Linked DNA regions of Homo sapiens. The protein of the gene in region 2 purifies or fractionates together with the protein of the main gene of each other region. This does not show direct contact. Each region holds a gene or a part of one and is shown on either strand. Other genes may lie near its edges.

What was found.
Region 1: the proteins of RORB (region 2) and GLB1 purify together in Homo sapiens (affinity purification with mass spectrometry, with the first as the bait; one large-scale study listed by BioGRID). This does not show direct contact.

The regions. Positions count from the first base shown.
Region 1 is NC_000003.12:33,013,348-33,017,155, forward strand, and holds part of GLB1 (beta-galactosidase isoform a preproprotein), read right to left. Parts: intron 3,494-3,808; coding exon 3,362-3,493; intron 964-3,361; coding exon 709-963; intron 1-708.
Region 2 is NC_000009.12:74,495,872-74,500,317, reverse strand, and holds the start of RORB (nuclear receptor ROR-beta), read right to left. Parts: upstream 2,984-4,446; 5' UTR 2,342-2,983; coding exon 2,335-2,341; intron 2,077-2,334; exon of another isoform or gene 1,765-2,076; intron 1-1,764. UniProt on the Homo sapiens protein: Nuclear receptor that binds DNA as a monomer to ROR response elements (RORE) containing a single core motif half-site 5'-AGGTCA-3' preceded by a short A-T-rich sequence.

The DNA.
Region 1 (3,808 bases), on a different chromosome or scaffold from region 2:
TGCCTCCCTCACTAGACTGAAAGTTCCATGAGGGAAAGGACCATGTTTGGTTTTATTCATGATTGTATCCTTAGTGCCTGGCACACACCTTGGGCACATAGTGGCCACAGAATGAGAAGTGTGTTGAATGAGTGATGGTAAGGTGATCTAGGATGAAAACAGGACATGAGGGAGAGGAGAAGGCGGTGAAGGAAGATATGCCAATGTCTTCAAACGACAAGGCGGAGTGACTGGGAAGTGAAAATGGATGAGGAAGAGTGGAGAAGCAGACAGCTTATGATAGAAGCCCCAGGGGTGTGGGGCTGGATGCAGGTGGGGATATTCTGGGAGCACTGGGCTTGGCATAAATGAAAACCAGACAGACTCTCCCAGAGGGATCCACCTCTTTGTCTTGACTGGATTGTCCTCAAGATAAAGAGAAAGCACCCCTATAATCAGCATCAAAAGGGGTCATGATTCTTCTTGGAGGAGGCAGGATGGTGTCATTCACTACAGGAAGCCAATGACAAGGGGGCAGATGGCAGCACCTCCGAGCTGGCCACTGAATCCCTGAAGATCTGCCACAATCCGCCTCCTGAAGAATGTCCGAAACGCCACACTCAAAACCATCACACGATATCTCACTAACAGCTCTTTGTGATTCTTTCTCAGACACTAACAACCAAAAGTTTAGGCCTGAATTCAAACCCTTCCCATGAAGACACGTACCTTGGTCCATCCAGGAAACTGGATAAAGGTGTCCTGGGGCAAGTCTGGGATCCCACTGGGAATGGAGAAGTTCCCCATATAAAAGGCCGGGAGCGTGTAGTTGGATGAGTTGTGGGCCCAGGCTTCATCATGGTGGCCACTGTCACGGTGTCCCCAGCCCCCCAGGTGGCTGCACACTGCATCCTCAGTGTCCAGTGGAAAGATCGTCCAGTCCGTGAGGATATTGGAACTGAGAGTCAGGTTAGAAACCAAACCCTGCAAAGCAGAAACAGAGCACAGTGAGCTGGGGAGGGAAGGAAAAAGGCTTCACATGTCTCTGCATTCCAGGGAAATGGGAAAAGCAAACCGGGATACAAAACACCAACAGGAAATGAACCTCGAAATATGTGTACATCGAAGTAACACAGATCTAACTGGAGGTTGAATTACAAATCCTTGGGAAGAGATATATTCCCCAAACTATAGCTTTCTCCTTTGCAGGTCATGATGTCTCTATAAAAGGCCCAGAGTTTCTGCTTCTACAGAAAGGGCATTGAGTTGCTAGAGTGATTGATCCCAAATTCCCAAATTTTCAGAGTTTGGCTGAGAGCCACTGCTAGAATAGAGAAAGATGGGCACCAAGAAAGATGGGCCAGGCGCAGTGGCTCATGCCTGTAATCCCAGCACTTTGAGAGGCCAAGGCAGACAGATCACTTGAGGTTAGGAGTTCAAGACCAACCTGGCCAACATGATGAAACCCCATCTTTACTAAAAATACAAAAGTTAGCTGGGTGTGGTGGCAGGTGCCTGTAATCCCAGATACTCAGGAGGCTGAGGCATGAGAATCGCTTGAACCTGACAGGTGGAGGTTGCAGTGAGCTGAGATCGCGCCACTGTACTCCAGCCTGGGTGTCAGAGCGACACTCCATCTCAAAACAAAAAGGGATCCAGTCTCTACAAAACATACAGAAATTGGCCTAGTGTGGGGGCATGCACGTATAGTCCCAACTACTTGGGAGGCTGAGAAGGGAGGATTGCTTGAGCCCAGGAGACAGAGGTTGCAGTAAGCCGAGATTGTGCCACTGCGCTCCAGGCTGGGTGACAGCAAGATCCTGTCTCAAGATGGAATCTGGGGACAGAAGGAATGAGTGAGTGTGGGATACAAAGGAATAGTCATCCCACTGCGGATGGAGCAGGTACGACGGATGCAGCCAGGAGCAAATATTGGCCTTGAGCACCTCAGCCATCATCACAGGGAGGACCACACCCGAGTCACTCACCTGTTATGAGGGCCAAGTGAGATAACATACATGAGAATACTGTGATACCTTAAGAGGATAGGAAGGTAATGATGACGATGGCAAACCTCAGACCTGAATTCAGAAGCTGCTCTATTTGTTCCACACAGGCCAGGGCTGGGCTGTCAAGGCTCAGCTAACTTCCCCTTCCCTGGCTTGTATGTAGGGAACTTCCCCATTCCCAGTGGAATCCCAGATACCAAGTCTCGATTGCCCATTTAATAATTTGATAAATATTAACCAGGTGGCTGTATGTCAGGCTCTTTGACAGGTACTGGAGACCCAGAGACTACACAACAGAGTCGAGTCACTCCCATGGGTCAATGTGGCCTGTGAGAGCCAGGCAGGAGGCCATGAAGTCCACCCTGAGCACAAGAACTATGAGAGAGACATTTATACTGGAGGCAAAGGTGGCCTGCACACAGCTATTCCCTAAGTTCCCTAAGATGTAATTGCCTGATCTCAAGAGGGTCAGGAAATAGCCCCAGACACCTGTCCTGCCCTAGCCTGGGTGGTGCCATTGTTCCCTTGATAAGGCATTCTCTCCTCTCGCGGAGGTTGAGCTCCCTGAGAGAAGCCTGTCTCTTGACACCTTTGCATTCCCCAAAGCACCTGGTGGGGCATCTCGCGGAGTGGGAGCTTAACAAATGCTTGCTGAATAATGCTCTAAAAATATGTGTTAGAAAAACTTATTTGGGCTACACATCTGGACACAGGAGTAATCAACAGAGGTGAGAGCCAGTGCCCCAAGGGAAGAGGCTTCCTACAAGTGAAGAGTTTGCCACAGGCTAACCATCCAAACCCATAAAACAGGGCAGAACAGAGGCTCAGCTGGCTTTACTGGCAAAGGAGTGCCTTCAGTGAGCTTGGTGGTCTTTTAAAGCAGAGGAAAAGCATGGTGGAGGGGCTTCCTCCTTCTGTTTCTTTCTATAGGATGACCAAACTCAAACACAGGGGAAAGGTTCTGTTTGCAAAGCTCAACTTTCTCATCACCTACAGAGGAAAACAGCTCTTCAAAATAGCTCAACTACTTCTTTTTTTTGAGACAAGGTCTCACTTTGTCACCCAGACTAGAGTGCAGTGGCATGATCATAGGTCATTTTAATCTCCAACTTCTGGACTCAAGCAATTCTCCTGCCTCAGCCTCCTGAGTAGCTGAGACCACAGGTGCATGTCACCACACCTGGCTAAGTTTTTAATTCTTTGTAGAGGTCTCACTATTTTACCCAGGCTGGTCTTGAACTCCTGGCCTCAAGTGATCCTCCTGCCTTGGCTTCCCAAAGTGCTGAGATTACAGGTGTGAGCCACTGTACTGGGCTTCAACTTCTAAGTTGTCACCCCTTAAACCTTAGTCTTGACAGTGTGGTTTGTCCTACCTTAAAATCGTTGATATATGCACCATAGTTCACACGTCCCATGTTCTCTACCAGAAGGTCCAGAGTGGCTCCAGCTTTCCCTGTTATGTTCAGAGTGATCACATTGTTTCGCTCAAGGACTCCCTGGGGGATCTGTGGGGTTCAAGACCAAATGACAATTGAATTGAGGGTAAGAAGGTCAGCAAGGAGAGGCAGCATGCTCAGTTAATTTAGCACTCATTTTCTTGCCTTGAAGTGTCACCAGACTTGGAAAGAAATGCTTTGATAGCATCTTAGCCCAAGTTACCGGCCAGGTCGGAAAGATCCCCCAATCACTGCTTCCTAAACAGGAAAACTGCCAGACACAGCTCAGAGCATGGAACGGTCTAAGCTGGTTTCCTTTGCCCTGGAATGTTTTACTGCCAACTACTTTTAGTGGAAAATTCCAGGGGAGGATTCTTACTAGAG
Region 2 (4,446 bases):
ACTGTCCGGGGAAAATATGAAGAGGTAGTAAGGAAAGACACTAGGGGTCAGGAAAGGGCAACCAGGAATGGCGATAGAGTGACCTGGTCATCTTTTAAGCTTACATTTTCTCCAGCGCATTCCCCTAAGGCCGCCTGAGAGCTGCCTCAAGTTAGAAGTTGTAAGGGGTCCTAGGGCGCCTGGCGAGGCTGGCGCCCTCTTTGATAGGTCTGTGGGCTTAAACTGGTTTTCTCAAGGTGAGCATGAGGACCAGCGCCTGGCTTTCAATCCTTCCAGCTTCTGGAGTCCTCAAAGCGACCGCCGTGGCGAACCAGGACAGTCATCTGCAAACTGCTCCTTCAGGAGATGCTAGATCAAGCTACAACCCATCCCCACCCCGCGCCGCACTCCTTCTACGATGTAAGGAGTGAGCGGATTTTATGCCCTAGGTCCTAGTGCTGGGTCCGAGCTGAGGTGGCGCATAGTTTACGACGTTCAGAAAGTATGAACCCAGCCACAGGGGGAAAGTTAGAAGGGAAGAAGGGGAGGGACGAACTGGCAGCTCTGGACTGGGACGGGGGAAACCGAAAGAATGGATGGGATGGTGAGATGGGCTAGAAAAAGAAAAACAAAAGACCGGGCGTCTCTTACTAAGCCAAGGTTCTCTACTCTCCAATTGCCCAAGTATAGTTTCTTGAAAGAATTTAGACAGTGGAGCGTGTAACCAACCCCCAACCGGGACAATCAGCTGGAGCCAGCGCGCACACACACGGGTGCCCCACTCCCAGCGAGCCGGCCAATCAAGACCATCCCATCAGGACGTCCTTGTTTCTTATCTACAGTCAACCCCCTCCCCCATGGACAGTCTCTCTCCGTTCCTTCTTCTCCTTCCCTTTCCTGACACATCCCAGCGTCCAGCCAGCAAACCCTTGAGTCCAGGCTCGGGGCTCACCGGGTGCGGGAGGGAGTGGGAGTGAGACCCGCTGCCTCCTGGGGTGCTCCTCTAGGGGCGTAGGGGGACTGGGTGGGAGAGGATCACTTTCAGTGGAAGGAGGAGACCAGTGATTGCATCCCAACTCTCCCAAGTGCTCCCTGCCTAGACCACCTCTCTCCGGGTCTGGGATGCAAGAAGGTCTGGAGCTGGCCGTTACTAACTTTCTGTTGTCAAGACCCAGGGGTACGTGCGAAGGATAGAGAAGAGCCCCCGATTAACCGCTGTGTGGCCAGGAAGAGGGACTGGGAGTGGGGGTGGGTGCCCAGAGCTTGCACAGATCCCCATGTCAAGCGGACACCCGCCTGGCTCTTCAGTAAAAGAGTGAAGAAAGGCCGAGCACAGCGCGAAGGAAACCTGAGGTCTCCGGCAAGGCAGGAGAGGAGACCAAGTGACTCCCCGAAACCCACCCTCCAGCCCTTCGAGAGGCCCAGAGTCCAGCCGGAGCAAGCGTAACGCTACAGTCCCTGGCGCGCATCCCTGCAGACCCCAGCTCGCCCCGGGGTCCCGCCGCCGCCGCCGCCACCGCCTGCGACTGCGAGGGTCCTGGCCCGAGGGTGCACCAGCACCTCCTTCCACTACCGGCCCTTTATCTGACAAAAGAGCCGGAGCCCATGACTCTCCGACTGTGAGCAGTGTGGCCTTTCCAAGCCTCCAGAACTTTCTCATTACAACTTTTCCGGGGTCGCACTACTCCCTGGGCCGCGCGGGCTCGGGCACGAGGACCTGGCCAGGGCGCAGCGCCGGCACGAAGGCGCGCGCCGCAGAACTGTTTCCTCAGCCGCGTGCCGGGGAACTAACTGTTTCCTCAGCCGCGTCCAGCCTCGCAGCACTGCTCTTCTGCTTGCTACTCCAGCGAAGGGACATGCCTGCTGGCCAGGACGCTTAGTGGGCCTCGTAACCTGGCGAGTGTGTGCCCGCGCGTGTCCACCCTGCCCCCGGCCGGTGCGCCCCGCGCGCCCAAACCCGGCCGGCGACCACTGCGCGCCGGGCGCTTCCAAACTGCTCCTGTCCAGAGGCATCCCTCTTTCGGCTTTCTCCATCCCGCGTCCGCTTCCGCACCCGAGAGCGACAAGCAAAAAAGATTCAGTGCAACTCAAGGACTGGTAAGAACCAACTAGCCTGTCTCCCCTCTCCAAAAAAGCGCCCTCCCGCGTCCCTCCAGAACTCCCGAAAGACATCAACACCTTCCCGCAACTTTCTACGCCCAGGCCATTTGCAGCCCCACCTGCGAGAGCGAATTCGGGGAACTGCGCCTGGGCAACCTCTTTCCCTTTCTGCTGGGTGCCCTCCCCTCCCCCATCTCCCCGTCTGGCTGGAGTTGGCCGGACTCGGGGAGCCTCGGTGCCCGCAGACTCGCTTACCTCGCATGGTGTGGCCGCTCTCCCGCTCCGCGTAGTCATGAAGCTGCTCCCAGCCCGAACCCCGGAGAGCCCAAAAATCCCGCTCAGCACGAGTGAAGAAGGTGGTCGGCGAAGAGCTGCTCTGCCGAGAAAACCATCCCTTTAGGCGGACGCCGTGGCTGCAGGGTGACGTTTGCCGCCGCCGCCGCTATGTTAACAGTTTTGATGTTGGTGGTGACTGTTTTGATGATTGTTTGTTTGTTTGTTTGTTTTCAGGAAGGGTGAAAAAAAAATGTTCTGGCTGTCTGGTGCCTGGGTTTTGTTTTGGTTTTGTTTTTCTTTTTCTTTCTCTCCAATGTGCTTGCTTTTTAAAAAATGCCACCGCCTCCGGCTCAGAAGATTTCTTTTGTGATCACTTGGACTGAGGAGGAGGAGGAAGGGCAGCAGCAGGAGGAGGAGTTGGTGGTGGTTTTGTTAGTTACAAAGAAGAGGGAGAAGGAACAAGGGGGAAAAAAGGAAACAGAAAGAAAAGAAAGAAAGGCGGTGTGGATGGCAGAGCATGTGCGTTTTCACATGACATCTGTGCCTGTTAGCGGATCCACAATGTGAATTTTCACTGTTCAGTTACAGGGAGGAAGGGAGCAGCGAGAGAGAAAGAGAGGGGAGAGATGGAGAGAGAGCGCTGAGAGGGGCTTATACGCGAGGGCGGGCTTGGCCGCGACTTCCAGGCCCCGCCTGCTGTCAGCGCAGCCGCCAATCAGAGCCCAGCAGCGCCTGGAGAGGCTGGGACCGCGGGGAGGGGACGTGGTGGAGGCGGGGGGTGGGGCGGGGGCTGGGGACCAGGGAGTCCGAGGTGGCCGGGGCTGCGACGGGGAATTCGAGACTGTCCGAACTGGGCAGAGAAGAAGGGCCGACCGGGAGAGTCGGGCAGATCCGCAGGTGACAGGCACTTCCGACTCCAGCAGAGAAGGGGACACTGATCACGGAAAACCTTCGGAGGCAAGAGACGCGGGGCTCCCCGGGTTTCACGTTCGGTCCCTGTCTCGCAACCCCCGCGGGCCCGGCAGAGTTAGTTTTGAATTTATGGCAGCGCTTTGCCGAGCGCTATTTGGGTAAACTTCGGTCTCCGGCGGGGGTTTCCGTGGGCAGGTGGTTTGGGTGTTGGTGGTAGAATAATGCAAACCCACTTTCATCACTTTTAGCACAACTAAAATGCAGTCCCATGGAAGTAGCTGTCCCCTTCCTTTAAAAACGTCCGTCAGATGCTCCCTGACCCTCTTCTAAAAAAAAAAAAAAAAGAAAGAAAGAAAGAAAAAAACGTGTATATGTTCTTTTGTCTGGGAAATTGATTTTTATTAGCATTTGGAGACTCCCCTGGCGATGGACTACAGGACTGAAGGAGAACAGCTCAAATTGGCGGTGTAGCCACCTTACTAATTCAAGAGAAATGGCTGTTGCTAGAAGGTGTGATTGCAGGGTGCTCTTTAGAAAGGTTTTAGAAGGAAGACATTGTTAACTTTAGTTAGAGGCGATTGGTAACTGAACATAGATAAACTTACTTGTATTCCTTAGGTGAAAATTGTCATCTATGACCATTTATTTGTATTTTGATAAAAATCTAATACATATATCCAAACTGTTCCTTTGCAAGTTTTTCCAACTCAGTTGACAAAATAAGCATATAGATGATTACATCTACTTCCTTCCCAATAGTAGGGAACTTCTTAAATACTTGAGTTAATTGAACACCCTAAAAGATTGGGAGGTGAAAATATTTGCCTCATTCACTCAGTCTTGAGGCTGGGAGATGTCTACTCATTAGCATACCTGTTGGCACAGCAGGCCTCATCATCATTTAAGTATCCAAATAATTTGATTTTTGACTGGTATTTATTCATGATATGTCATGTAACACAAAGTACAATGTAGAATTGGCAGTTATTTAGTTAATTAGGTCGCTCTACACTGCCAAGTAGTTTTTTCCTTCCTGATTAAATGAAAAATGAATTATCTGCTGAATTTTCACCAGTATTAAATTGACGTAGCCCTGCTATATGCCATCCCATTTGCAAACCAATGTGTAATTTAGGAAAATTTTAGTATTAAGAGTGAAAGTTGATTGAGTCATTAATT